Homo sapiens: one gene and its partner. The protein of the gene in region 1 interacts with the protein of each later gene in a biochemical or structural test. Each region holds a gene or a part of one and is shown on either strand. Other genes may lie near its edges.

What was found. Proteins that work in one complex are often made in the same cells at the same time.
Region 2: the proteins of CNTN1 (region 1) and PTPRB form a complex in vitro, tested with the Homo sapiens proteins (2 studies listed by BioGRID).

What each region holds. Positions count from the first base shown.
Region 1 is NC_000012.12:40,688,183-40,695,811, forward strand, and holds the start of CNTN1 (contactin-1 isoform 1 precursor), read left to right. Parts: upstream 1-4,256; 5' UTR 4,257-4,410; intron 4,411-7,629. UniProt on the Homo sapiens protein: Contactins mediate cell surface interactions during nervous system development.
Region 2 is NC_000012.12:70,634,130-70,641,271, reverse strand, and holds the start of PTPRB (receptor-type tyrosine-protein phosphatase beta), read left to right. Parts: upstream 1-3,842; 5' UTR 3,843-3,876; coding exon 3,877-3,931; intron 3,932-5,205; coding exon 5,206-5,601; intron 5,602-7,142. Other genes in the region: PTPRR (receptor-type tyrosine-protein phosphatase R isoform 1 precursor), read left to right, coding at 1,995-2,088. UniProt on the Homo sapiens protein: Plays an important role in blood vessel remodeling and angiogenesis. Not necessary for the initial formation of blood vessels, but is essential for their maintenance and remodeling. Can induce dephosphorylation of TEK/TIE2, CDH5/VE-cadherin and KDR/VEGFR-2.

The DNA of each region.
Region 1 (7,629 bases):
TCTCCCCACCACGTGGCACTGATAGTGTGTGTGTGTGTGTGTGTGCATGCAAGCTTGGTGCACTGTGCATCCATCCCATTGCCTGGATTCCCAGTTGGCTATGTAAAAGCTAGGTCAGTGAGCTGACGTGATCTCTGAGATGCTGCAGACTGGGTTTAGCATGACTCTCTTTAAACCAGCAGGCAGAACCTTGGTTACCTTTCTGCTGTGGTAATTGCAGCTTAAAATATTAATTGGAAAAGGCCCGTTTTCCTTACTCTCCTGCTTTTTTGCCATATCGAGTATGTTAGAAATTGTTCTGGGAAGCCTGGAGAAGTGAGGAAACGGTGGGCGGAGCAGAGGAGAAAGAAAGGGAGTACATGCTGTGGAAAGCTGCACTGTTGCTGTAGTTTCCTTTCCCTTCACTGAGGTTTAATCACTAGTTGGAGGAAATTGGAATGTTTGAAGAAGGAGGGCCAGTGCAGGGTGGAAAAAGGAGGGGAAGACAGGAGAATTCAATAAGGCCAAGGGCAGTTTAGCAAAGCAATGCCCAGTAAATTGTACTATGGAACTCTGTAAGTGACTAGGGAGTCAGAGCCATCCAGGGCACATGACAAAATTGTCCTACTGTTTCTTTTGAAGATCTGCAGACAGGTTCTATACCAGACTGCCAGATTGGAAGCCTTCAGACTATTGTTTCTATAATTCCCTTCTTCCTAATTTTAGGGACAGAAGTGCCAGCTGGCCATTCATTTTCCAACAGCTTTCTTCATACCTCGACACCAGTCCTGATGACTCTGATCCCATACTCATGAAGCCGACCTCAAACTTACAAGCACGTTGAATCTGAGCTGAATTTATAGTTAAAGTGGCATGCTTTCACATATTTTTATAGACGCTGGAAGATGAGTACACCAGCTGGATCAGTCCTGAAAACATCAAAAGGCTGGATGATACAGGGAGGAAAAAGAGAAGGAACTCTGCTGAAAGAAATACCAAAACTCTTATTGTTCATGTGGTAGAAAAAGTAATGAATGAAGTCTTAAGACCTGGGGTCTAGCTGCAGCTTTCCCCTAACTAGTCACATGACCTTAAGCAAATTCTGTCCCTCCCTCACAGAATAATGAGTGGAATTCAACAATTCTTTCTTTTTCTTTTCTTTTTTTTTTTTTTTTTGAGACAGAGTTTTGCTCCCATTGCTGCCCAGGCTGGAGTGCAATGGTGCCATCTCGGCTTACCGCAACCACCTCCGTCTCCCAGGTTCAAGAGATTCTCCTGCCTCAGCCTCCTGAGTAGCTAGGATTACAGGCATGGGCCAGCATGCCCAGCTAATTTTGTATTTTTAGTAGACACTGGGTTTCTTCATGTTGGTCAGGCTGGTCTCGAACTCCCAACCTCCGATGATCTGCCTGCCTCGGCCTCCCAAAGTGCTGGCATTACAAGGAGTTCAATACTTTCTAAGATCCTTCAAACTTTCATATTTTCAAAACCATATATTTGTCAGCAAATACATATTAGATGTCTGCAATATGCCAAGCATTATATACCCACCTATAATAGTTTACTGCCTTTGTTTTTGAAGGACCACATTTCTCTTTGGTTACTCAATTTCCTCATGGTGAAATGCGACTAATGATGACTCTCCTGCTTATTTTAGAACACAGAGGGAAATTGTATCTGAAAGTGATTTGGAAAATCTAAAATGTTCTGCAGCAGCAGATACCTTTGACATATTCATTTGTATTGTGGGAACATATGTACAGGTTTTTCTCTTTGAGATAATAAGCAATAACCTGAAAATGCTCTGTTTTACTTGAAAATGTGTGAGATGCCTGATCCAGAGAGAAATTATCTTAATACTGTTCCAGAGTTGTGTTTGCATGTACACACAAAGCTGCTAATTAGATCACAGTAAATGCACAAAGTAACATTGTCTGCTTGAAGAATAAAGAATGTGTTCCATGAGAGCTTGCCTATTTTATTCACCATCACATTTATAATAGTAATATTTGTTGAAGGAATGAATGAGTGAAGCAATGAAAGAACGCAGATAGCAGAGATGTCTTTAGTTTTCTTTTCATTACCAATTTCAATTCTTGTGTTGTCTTCAATATTTAGGTATTTTCTTTGATACTTTTTCTTCTCCTCTGATTACCTCTAGAGGAGAGTATGTTGAAGCTCATTTTGACTCAAAATAATTTATGCTTAGGAATCAAAAGATGTTCGTGTTGCAAACACACATTCCTTAGAAATATTACTATTGTAATTGCTTCCTGAGATCATCTTTAATGTGTCCAATACATTATTCTGCTTTAGTTCTGTAGCACCTAACACAGGGTATGGCATTGAAAAAGTACTCAGTAATTCATGAATGATTTGGCCAATCCAATGGAATAACTGGTGTGAGTACCTGGGACAGAGGTGCATGACTAATAGGAGTATTGTGTAAGAAATGACACAGGGGTTCTGAAATTTTGCCACGGCATATTTAGTCATTTCCATTCAGTGTTAAGATGGTTGTCACCACACAAATAATATCTATTTGTTCACTGTAAATTTTCTCCAGGGTCCCTTCCCACCTTCAAATGCATTATTTTATTTTATTTTATTATTTTATTTTATTTTATTTTATTTTATTTTATTTTATTTTATTTTATTTTATTTTATTTTATTTTATTTTTTGAGGCGGAGTCTCGCTCTGTCGCCCAGGCTGGAGTGCGGTGGCGCAATCTCCGCTCACTGCAAACTCCGCCTCCTGGGTTCACGCCATTCTCCTGCCTCAGCTTTCTGAGTAGCTGGGACTGCAGGCGCCCAACACCATGCCCGGCTAATTTTTTGTATTTTTTGTATTTTTTTTTTTTTTTTTTTTTTTGAGTAGAGACGAGGTTTCACCGTGTTAGCCAGGATGGTCTCGATCTCCTGACCTTGTGATCCGCCTGCCTCGCCTGCCAAAGTGCTGGGATTACAGGCATGAGCCACCTCGCCCGGCCCCCACCTTCAAATGCATTAATCGGATTCCTTCAGTATTATGAAGAAAACATTATGAAGAGCCTTACCTGATGATAGTAATAACAACCGTAACCACTAAGTAGAGTCTATATTTATTAATAGCAATGTCATCTTCTCTAACAGTTGTCCAGTGTCCCAAGCCTGTCATAAGCTCTTTGAAGCTCTGTGAGAATGAGAGTTGTGTCTTATGCTCAGCACTTAAGATGGCTACTTAATTCAGATAGAAGAAGAATGTGGCTATTTGCAGGCAGAAGGCAACTTGATTCCTCACATGGTACTATATACTAAGACACCCTACACTCCCAGTTTTACACGTGGTAGTTCTAGCACGTTCCTTCATTTAAGGAGTCTCTTGAATTCCAAAATTTCCAGATTCCACCTGAATAAATGGCAGAGATGGCAACTGGACACAAAGTTATTTTACCCTGTTCCCTTCACATAAAAGGCAGGCTTGGGATCACTTAGGTTTGGGGGCATAAACATCCTCTCAGTGTCTGAGTACTAAAGAAATGATAAACTACTATCAATAGAAAAGTAACAGATCACTTAATTATCAATCAGTCTAATGGTGATTATTTTAAGACTTTTGCCACAAACTGAACTGCCCCAAAGCAAATCTCTCATGCAGTTTGGCCTTAATTTCTTTTACCCTTTTTTTTTTTTTGAGAGGTTATTATGCAGTGCTTTCCCGTTTAAAACACTGTTTCTACCAGGGAATATTAGGGGGTCTTCTGCATTACAGACTAAGCAATTCCGTCTTTTCTCAAGAAAAACTGCCATGTTACATCTGGACAAAAATGGAAACTTTAAAAAAAAACCTCACATCGTTTTATTTTCCTTTCTGTGTGTGTATTTTTTCCCACATAAGTATCTTATTATTTCCTAATCGAAGCTCATTCTTCTCTATGAGGCGCTGGCTTGGTATTTTCGCCTGACAAATCTCCCGGAGCAGATGGTCCCTTCAGGGAAGCTTCAGGAAAGTGCTGGGTGTCTAGTTATGCCTGGACCCTCCCTCCCTCTTGGGGCCCCAAATGACAAGTCATCAAACCAGTTTCTCTCCAGCAAGGGTCCTTGATCCGGTAGCAGCAGGTTTGGGTTTCAGGCACTGCAGAGACCCTTTGCAGTTGGGTTTAGCAGCTACCCAAGTCTGCAGCCTGCGCTGGTCCTGGGGGTGAGAGTGATATCCCTGTTGTCCAATCAGAGAAGCGGGTTTCCCTGTGGTCCCCGCCCCACTTTCCCTGCTGCCCCAATAACCGCCCTAAAAGGCCGGGCTTCTGCTGTCAAGTAGCCAGGGTGGGCTCCGCCGAGGCGAGGAGGGGCGCCGGTGGGGAGATGCGCTCCCAGGTGTTTGCAGCGGAAGTGGGAAACCTGTAGGGTATGGTCCAGCTGTGCCGCACCGAGGCGAGCAGGAGCAGGGAACAGGTAGGAAGCTGGACTTTTCCTTCTTTGCAGATAAAATAAAGAATGCGCATTTCCATGCTGTTGCTTCCCTTCCCCCAGCCCCGCCCAGCCCTCGTCACCCCCAAATCTCCTGTGGTCCCTGCAGCTCTCGCCGTGCGGCGCGGGAAGGACTGGGGCGGAGGTGGCTGGGGTGCGGGGAAGCAGGGGTGCGGGATGCCGGAGCCCTGGGGTGCCGGGCAAGGCAGGACGGCAGTGCCCTAGAAGAGGGCTCCGAGCTCGGGGTCTGTGTCTCGTCAACTTTCCTTTCGGAGGCTGCCGCCGCCAGCGCCGGGAACTCGCCCCAGGGATGCCATATCGCCTCGGCAGGGGAGGGGTGGGGAAGCAGAGAGGTCGGCAGCCCGGGGCCTGCAGGTCTTTTTCTCCCGACGCCGGCCCGCACCTGCTCATCTTTCCCATCCCACCTGGGCGCCTGGCTAGCGCATCCCGGAAAACCTGGGAGCGGTTGCGGAGAGGGGAGGAAGCGACTTGTTTGTCCCCTGACCCCTCTGTTAAGATCTAGCTCCCTTCAGGAGATGGGGGTGGGGAAGAATCCCTGCAACTCGAAGGGCACGTTCCGATTAATTACGTCTCCGTTGAGAAGGCACCGGCCCTTCTCCACGATCTGCGGCAGGTGGGAGGGAGAGACCGCGGAGCCACGGCCCCTTCCCTCCTAGCCTGGCGCTGTCTACGGGAACCACCTTCACACCTAGTTTCTGAAAGGTGGATTTGGCTTCAGGGATTTCCAGGGAGTCAAGTGATTGTGCCCGGATGGGCTCCGAGCGGCTGCGAGGCTGCCTCCCTAGGTGACCGCATCTGGGTAGTAGGTGTTGGCCCAGTGCCGGTTCCTGCAGGAGTCAGATTGCTGGGAGCAGTAGGCAGAAGAATTGCAGAGAGATCCGACGCTGCATCACCCTCTGGGACTGATGACACCCTGCTTTGAAAATTCCTGAAAAATTGGGATGATGGGAAAGAGGGAAAGCGGATAGCTGCGACCTTTCCTTATTTATTTATTTATTTTCATGCCAAACCGGGCATGGGTATTCGTACGTGTGCTTGTGTGTGCACATCTCCAAGGTGGAGCTATATATAGCTCCTGCATACCCAGCCCGGCTTCCCTGCTGCTGAGCCGGCTGCCTTGGCCTTCTCAAGCAATCTGGAAGCACTGAGTGGGCGGGGCAAAAGGGAATCCAATTCTCCATTGGGGGAAAAGCCGGAGAAGAAGCATTCAGACTGCTGAAACCCTGCGTGAAATAATGTTTTTGTAACTCACGTAAAGATCAATATTTCATATTTCATGTTTTCAATATGTCATATTTCATGTTTTCAATATTTCAGTATTTTGCAAACATTCTTAGAGTGCCAATATAATCTTCATCCATTTCGCCGCATTTTTCGGTTTCTAAGTGTACATATGAACCTTACCAGCCCGAAGTGTAACGCAAATCAAATTAATACATGCCGTATCTGGGATATTTTATTAGACTCGGCATAATGGTTTGGTTATTTGGTAGTAAATTTATTTCAGTGGTAACTTATGGCTAACAGCATTTGGGGATCTGGGAATGGATCCACCCACTTTCCAGGACTAAGGAACTGCTAGAACCCTTGCGGGGGTAGATGTGAGGTATTTCTTTGTACAGATTTTACATGTGGACCTGATATTTAAATTTGTACTGCTTTTTCATATCACATCTATTTGTACTATGTGAACTTTCTTTTATAGATTGATGTATGTGCATTTATCTTTGCCATTCCCTGAAATTACTTATTCCTGATGACAACCTTTCCATTTTCACAGATGAAGAAACTAAGATTCAGAAGACACAAGTGATTGGTTGAAAGTCTTCTGAAAACTTTAATATTCCAACAACCTGCCGTGTAATTATACTGCATAGCAGTTTCCCCTCAAATAGAATACTTTTTAGCTTCCCAGGATTTTTGGTCCTGGCAACAAAATGTGGTTAATGTTGATACCAGGAACAATATAAACCAAGTTTATTCGGTTCTAGTCTGACATGTATCCCTACAAAATTTAATTCTGTGTTTTAAGAACAAAATTCTAACTTGCCAAGTCATTTTGAAGATAAATTATTTAATCTACCAAGTTACCATCATAGGCAGTGCGAGCTGGCTTTTAATTTTGCTCTGCAACTTCCTGATGATCTGATTTGGAGCAAGATAATTAAACTCTGAGAATCTGTTTTCTTGTCTTCAAAAGGAATTTTATAGCATTGAAATTTCAGGTTGCTATGAGGGCCATAAAAAGCATGCATGTTTCTATCATGGGGATGGGCGCATAGTGGGTCATTAATAAACAGGGCTACTGGTAATAATAACAATACATAGGTATGTATCAACTAAATGCATTTTAAAATTCATGGTTCTAACAAAACGATCACTCCTCTTCAGAATCTCTAGTAGACTATTTTCACTTGGGAACTTAATCATACTTAGTCTTATTTTGTTGCTTAATCCTCATTTGTATGTCTGATTTGTTTTCTAATTAGGAAGTACTTTGCAGAAAAAGACTACACTTATAATCTTTTTGTATACCCCACCACATTGAACACAGTCCTATAATAAGTAGCCTTAAAGATTCTTGTTCAGGAAGCATCATCCTAAGAAGCTGGATGGGTGCAGCAATGATTTGGGGATATTTTTTTGGTAGAAGGCTATGCCTTGGGAGGAAACTTCCTCTGGCTTTATGATCCTCTCCATGAGGAGTAATGGATGACATAAGGTGTTTCTATATCTTTTCATAGAATGACTCGGTTCTACAGTAGGGATTATGACTATGTACTGGTTCTATGTATTCTCTTGTATCTTGTGTCCCTTGAGACCAACTAGGAAGAGCTGAAATAGACAATTTATATTTCTGTATACAAAATATGTCCTGTAATTGCCTTATTTCAAAAAAAATCAACAAATTCTCCAATTTCCATCTATTTCTACATGTAAATTGGCCATGGTCTCTATCATATCCCACAACTTATTCTAACTCACCAGTAAGCTCCTCCTCAATTCCAATGTTTGTTTTCTTTTTATTGATGTATTATCGATTGTTCTCTTCTGACCTTCTATTTTCCATATTGTCCATCTTCTTGAAATTTTGCTCCTTGACACCACAATGCTCTGATAGCGTACTTTTTTCTTAATTTTTCTAACTTTCCTTTCTTTGTCTCCCTCTTATCTTCTCTTTCT
Region 2 (7,142 bases), about 30 Mb from region 1:
ACATACTGTCTGCAGCTCAAGAGGGAGTAATGGTGCCCTGAGCTGTGCAAATGCCAGAGGAAGGGAGGCACCTCTCAGCTCCCTGGAGCTACCCTAATATTTACTGTGGTGGTGTCTCCCAAGCTTCACAGTTCAAGCCAGCATCTTCGGAACACCTGCTATGATTTTAGATGAGCCCAGATGTCATCACACAGCTAAGAAGATAAACCATTACCACATTCTCAGCTGGCCATTTCTGTTGTTCACTTCTGACCAAGGAATACTTAGCCCAGAAGGTTGCCTTCAATGCAACAAAATGTACAGCTCTAGGGGAGGAAGACCAATTAAATACTTCTGTCAATAAGTTGCTGTCACCAAAAACTGTGAATTTACCTCTTTATTTTTTGCCAATTACATCATTTTGACATCATGTTAATTTTCCTGGGGAATCACTGTTTAGTTTAAAACAAGGAAGTTTTACTGCTCTAATATTGACATAGATTGACAAATAAACATAGAAGCCCAGTTTTTATTATTACCATTAACTAGAAGTCTTGTTACAGTGAGACAAGATATCTTGTTTTTAAGTTGAAGTGCCTAAATAATCTGAAAGTTATTTTGAATGATACTAACAACCACTTGGAAAAATCTGGTTAAAACATAGAGTTAAACTAAAAGATAAGATCAGTTGCATGATTGCAGAGTTACAGAGAATTTACAAGACTTTAAATAGTTACCGATAGTGATGCTTTTATACAGTGAGCAGGAATAGTAACATATTAATGTCTGGTAACTTTGTCAAGCTAAAAAATCATAATTATAGGACTGGACACCGTCGTTCAAGCCTGTGATTCCATCACTTTGGGAGCCCAAGACAAGAGGATCACTTGAGTCCAGGAGACCAGCCTGGGCAACATAGTGAGGCCTTGTCTCTACAAGAAAAAAAAAATTTAAAAATTGTCCAGGTGTGGTGGTGCCTGTGGTCCCAGCTACACCAGAGGCTGAGGTGGGAGAATTGCTTGATCCCAGGAAGTTGAGGCTGCACTGAGCTGTGATCATGCCACTGCACAACAGCCTAAGCAATTAAGGAGACGTTTTCTCAAAAACTAAAATTAAAAAAGGATCATAATTATGAAGGGGGAAAATGTGATATAGGTATTATGTATATAAAAACATAATGAGAAGCACCGTTATTTCTCATGAAGGCAAGTGCTTTCTATGAATCCATTGACAAGGAGGGTGCTGGGCAGCTAGTGATGATAATGGTGATAACCAAGAGGAAAATGTCACAGCAGAGCCAATTCCCTTTTTCCAACTCATTTAAGGACCCACCCACTATTGTGTTTAGACACCCCGTACACCAAAAGGCTAAGGTTGCTTCTGTACAACATATTCAAATAAACCATTCCAAGGTAGACTTCATTTTACTTGTAGAAAGCAACATTTTGCAGATGAGTTTTGTTTGGTTTGTCTCCGTCAATCAATTTTAAGCCAAATGTATAAACCATTTTAACAAGAGATGAATCATGAGGCACCTGAGAAGTAATACAAATATACCAGCTACAATGAATTTATTTAACCTTCACAGCAGTAGTTACTGTTACTATCCTGCTTTAACAGAGGAAGAAACTAAAGTGCAAGGGGTTTCGAGGAATTTGTCCAAGATGCATACAGCTAAGAATTGGCAGAGGAGGGATTTGAACTCACCTTGGCTGATGCCAAATCCAAGTACTTGATCATTAGGCTGTACCACCTCCCCAGTAATGTTACACAGGTAAAAATTAATCACGTGCCTAGTGTGTGCTGGGAACTGTGTTAAGCCCTTTATATACATTACCATGTTAACTTTGATAGTTGAGACATTTGGACACAGGTAAGAGGGATAACAAAAGAACCACTAGGTCGACTGTTCTATGTGTCTTTGGCATAATACCCTAGCTTGGATGAAATCTCTGTGTTACTTGAAATTGCAAGATTTTAGCAAAATCAGTTATTTTATGATTTCTTCCTTGCAGAGGTGGAATGGTGCAAACCAGTGAGCAGTATGAATTTGTGCACCATGCTCTGTGCCTGTATGAGAGCAGACTTTCAGCAGAGACTGTCCAGTGAGTCATTGAAGACTTGTCAGACCATCAATCTCTTGGGGTGATTAATCAAATTACCCACCCAAGGCTTCTAGAAGGAGCTTCCTGCAATGGAAGGAAGGAGAAGCTCTGAAGCCCATGTATGGCATGGATTGTGGAAGACTGGGCAACATATTTAAGATTTCCAGCTCCTTGTGTATATGAATGCATTTGTAAGCATCCCCCAAATTATTCTGAAGGTTTTTTGATGATGGAGGTATGATAGGTTTATCACACAGCCTAAGGCAGATTTTGTTTTGTCTGTACTGACTCTATCTGCCACACAGAATGTATGTATGTAATATTCAGTAATAAATGTCATCAGGTGATGACTGGATGAGCTGCTGAAGACATTCGTATTATGTGTTAGATGCTTTAATGTTTGCAAAATCTGTCTTGTGAATGGACTGTCAGCTGTTAAACTGTTCCTGTTTTGAAGTGCTATTACCTTTCTCAGTTACCAGAATCTTGCTGCTAAAGTTGCAAGTGATTGATAATGGATTTTTAACAGAGAAGTCTTTGTTTTTGAAAAACAAAAATCAAAAACAGTAACTATTTTATATGGAAATGTGTCTTGATAATATTACCTATTAAATGTGTATTTATAGTCCCTCCTATCAAACAATTACAGAGCACAATGATTGTCATTGGGTATATATGTATTTACTCTCTATTATTGGGCATAAAGGTGGCTTCTGCTCCAGAACTCTATCCACTGTATTTCCACATCGTGAGTCATTTTACTTTAAAAGGGAAAAACAAATTTGTAGCAACTCTGAAGTATCAAGAGTTTTAACTACTTGTCTCTCTTTTGCTAAGAAGGGATTTTTGAATATGCTATCTACCTGGAATCTCTCTCTCAACAAAAGGTATATGCCTTCAGGAATGATATAATCTGTCCCATTTTCGAGGCTCCTTATAAGGACATTTCCATGTATGTCCTTACATTTCTGAAAGCTTTCAATCTTCAAGAGACAAAAAAAATTAAAATAACTACCCTCAGCAAACACTAGCTGTTCTGCTCATATATGAATTTTTAATGCAGCAATGTTGACTTTGTTTCATACTGCCAATAAACTCTTAATACTAAATACTGAGTAAAGCATATTCTTTTTTTTTTTTCTATTTGGAAAGACGCCATCCTCTGTTTGGGGAAGACCAAAGTAGATAATGTGATGGGTTTAATTTTAGTGTCTGCATCTCCCCAGTGAAGATGACGATCTCAAAATGTAATATTGTCATCACTTGGGAGATAATGATCTAGAAGTGCCATCATTATGTGGTTTTCCTCAATAGACTCGCAGCATATCATTATACAAACAGTACATGTTTATGTCTTTATATCACTTGTCATAGACCCTCATCAATTACATGGCTTATGTTTATTCAGCAGAATCACATCACCTGAAGAGATGTAATGTTTCAGGAACATTCAATTATCTGAGATTTCAATTCCTTTCTTTCTTCTTGAGGTTAAGAAGCAGTCACATGCCAAAGGAAAGGTAGGTGAGGTCTTAACGAGATTTACTCTGCTCTTGAAGGCTGGAATATTTTCTACATTAAAAAAAAGAGGTAATCATAATCCCTTCTTTCTAAGGAAACAGACAAAAGGACACTGGTGTAAAACTTCCCCAAACAATTCAATAGGAGGAAGTGCTCGTCACTGACTTTTCCCCCCACCATGAAGGCACATTTCCTTCCTAGTCTTTGCTTCTCTTATCTGGGAGAATTTTTTTTTTCCCCAAGCGAAGCATGAACAGTTGCTAAGTGGAAAATGGAGGCTGAATTTTACATGGTGATTCTTACCTGCTTGATCTTCAGGAACTCAGGTGAGTGGGTCTGCCTCAGTGTCCTGAGGCATTTCTTCAAGATCTAGCCAAGGAGTCCCTGGTCTTTGAAGTGTCTGAAATAAGGTAGAAGGGGCCAGGTCTCCATGGCAGTTTAGCCAAAGACGATGAAAAGCAGGAATAAAAGGAGCCAGCTATGCCCATACTGTTGAGATTTCTCTCCAAAAGAAAATAAATGCTCTCCTCTCATCCTCCAAATGCTTCAGGCAGCCCCTGAAATGATACATTTAGAGCAGAGCGTAAAGAACCCCGAGGAAAAGTTTGTATTATTATATAACAGTCTGTGGCTTTCCCCAAGCCTTTTTCCGACCCGGTTATAGTTTTATTTTCTTTTGTGTTGAAGAAAGAAAATTGAAGGAATATGATTAAAGGGGGTGAGGAAATGTAGTGTGTTTTATTTGGAAGTTGTCATTTGGGAGGGCTGAACATTTTCATGAGCGAGCTGGGCAATTTAAGTAAAACCTCATTGAAAATGGTTTCTGAGCCAGAGTATCTTGCTCTTTAATACTGATGTTTAGCAATTTGATGTTTAATTTTCTTACACTGGCACATGATGATTTTTAGAAAATCTATTCGTATTTGAGAGAAAACTGTAGATATTGTCATAAAATAGAGAAATGCTCCTCTCCACGACTAAAGGAAATTTAGTTTGTGATAATCAATACTTTCATTGGCTGCAATTAGCTAGGAGGTTGTGCTTGGAGAAGTGGGAAAATTTGTTTTATTTTTTGATAAATGTATGCAATTTTAAAAAATTGTTATTCAAACTATGAAATTTGTATATAAATACTGCAATGTGAATTTAAAGACTGGAAAAGGGGGTGCTTTTTTAAGGTAAGGGAGGAAGCTTATATCGAATATGTCAAATGGTTAAAAAGGGAGCTGAGCATTTCATAACTTCAGCATATCTAACTAATTGGGCTAAAATATACTATATACTTTGGATGGTTTTGTTTCTTTCCAAGCTTCCTTTCATTTTCCAATAAGAGGTGTGCTTTTTTCCCCTAAAGCATGTGAAAATTAAAAAAAAAAAAAAGATGGGGAGTTAAGTGTAACATATTGACATTTTATATCGTCAGCTTTGGAATTTTAAATCACATGTGTTAAATATGAGAATGTTCACTTGAAATGATAGAAATAACAAAATATAAGTAAAACTAGTGATTTTATTTAGCTCATTTGTGGGTGGGTTCTTCCGTTTTCTAATGGGCCTCATAATTTGCTACATAGTGCTTTATGAGCTTTTCATCTTCCAGAAGGGTTTCAGATTGTCCATGTCCAGAAACAACAGTGTCTTTTCAAAAATGAGAAAGTGGTCGTGGGCTCATGCAACAGGACCATCCAGAACCAGCAGTGGATGTGGACTGAGGATGAAAAGCTCCTTCATGTTAAATCTGCACTGTGCTTGGCCATCTCCAACTCTTCCCGCGGCCCCTCCCGCTCAGCCATCTTGGACCGCTGTTCCCAGGCACCCCGATGGACCTGCTATGATCAGGAAGGCTTCCTTGAGGTGGAAAATGCCTCTCTCTTTCTCCAGAAACAAGGCTCCAGAGTAGTGGTCAAGAAGGCCAGGAAATACCTCCATAGCTGGATGAAAATAGATGTCAACAAGGAGGGAAAACTGGTCAATGAAAGCCTCTGTTTACAAAAAGGTGAGCTATTCCTTTCAGAGCAAATCCTGAAAGTCTTTCTACTAAATATCTTGGGGGTTTTGTTTGTTTGTTTGTTTGTTTGTTTTACATTTAAGGGAAGTCCACATGCCCCAACATATTTCCTATGGAAGATTCATAAGCTAATGGAGGTGGATGGTGACGTGCCCAATGATGGAAAACTTCATGACCCTCATTAAAATAAGCCCAACTTTTTCTATTGCTTTTTCTTCCTTCCCTTCTTGTCTTGCTTCTTTTATTAATTCAACAACTATTTCATGAGCCTCTCTTCTCTGCCAGTTAAGCACTGTTAGATGTAGGAATATGGATGTAGGCATATACACAGCCTATATATGTAATGACTAAAGTCAGTAATCGGAAAATTATTAGATTTTATTGACAGACACTTCTATTTGCTAATTATAATAAATTATTAGAACATCAGAATGGTGCTTGATAAGACTGGAAGATAGTTGTGTTTTTGCAAATCTCTTGTATTGCTGTTTAGGGGTAGATATCTTTTGGAGGTAACACACTTTTGAAATGTTAAGAATCAATGGGCAGCCACAGATTTTTCTAATTTATTGACCATTAATGGATATAACCCAGATAATGGACACATGTAGAAAATATGTTATACACATGTGCAAGCTCCTGGTGCAGGACACAGTTCAGTCCTGAGCTAGGAATTTTTGCTTGTGGAATATATAGGCAGTTTAATCTTCTCTTGAAGTTAATCATGCAATTGTGTATTTACTCTTCTATTAGAGGTTTGCTTTAGAAAGTCATGAAAGATAAAACTGATGAATCACAATATATTAGGCACCAATGAACCTTACAAAGCATGGGAAAAGTTATCAAGAAACGAAGCGCCTCACTAAGAAGACAAATTTTTCAGGGTTAAGTAAATTGTCCCAGATAAATTAGCAGCAGATCTATGATTAGAGCCTAAGTTTTTTGACTCTTTGTTCAGTGTACATTTTACTATACCAGAGGTTCCCAAATGCTTGACCACAGACTTGCCCCATGGCTTGCCTAAGAATCACCTGGGGTAGAAAAGGGAGGGCTTACTAAAAATACACATTCCCGTAGCTAATGCATCCTGGGCTTAATTCCTAGGTGATGGGTTGATAGGTGCAACAAAGCACCACGGCACACGTTTACCTATGTAACAAATCTGCACACCCTGCACATGTACCCCAAAACTAAAAATAAAAATTTAAAAAAAAATACACATTCCCAGGATTCTTTCCCACCATTTTTTCCTCTACAACCACCTCCAAGATTCTGTTTCAGGAAATCTGGATTTGTGCATAATACTTGATATTTATTAATCACCAGAAAATTTTGATCCATAATCCAATATGGAGATCAGCATCCACTGTATTGTTAAGTCTTTTCCTTAGGTGTTGATTTGTGAGGCTTATATTAGTCTTTCCACCATGGTAATCTTTGGACAATTTTTTCTCACTCATTCATTCTGTAAGTTAAAACAAGCATTTAACTAGATGCCATTTGAATGTGTTATGCTTTTCTACAATAAG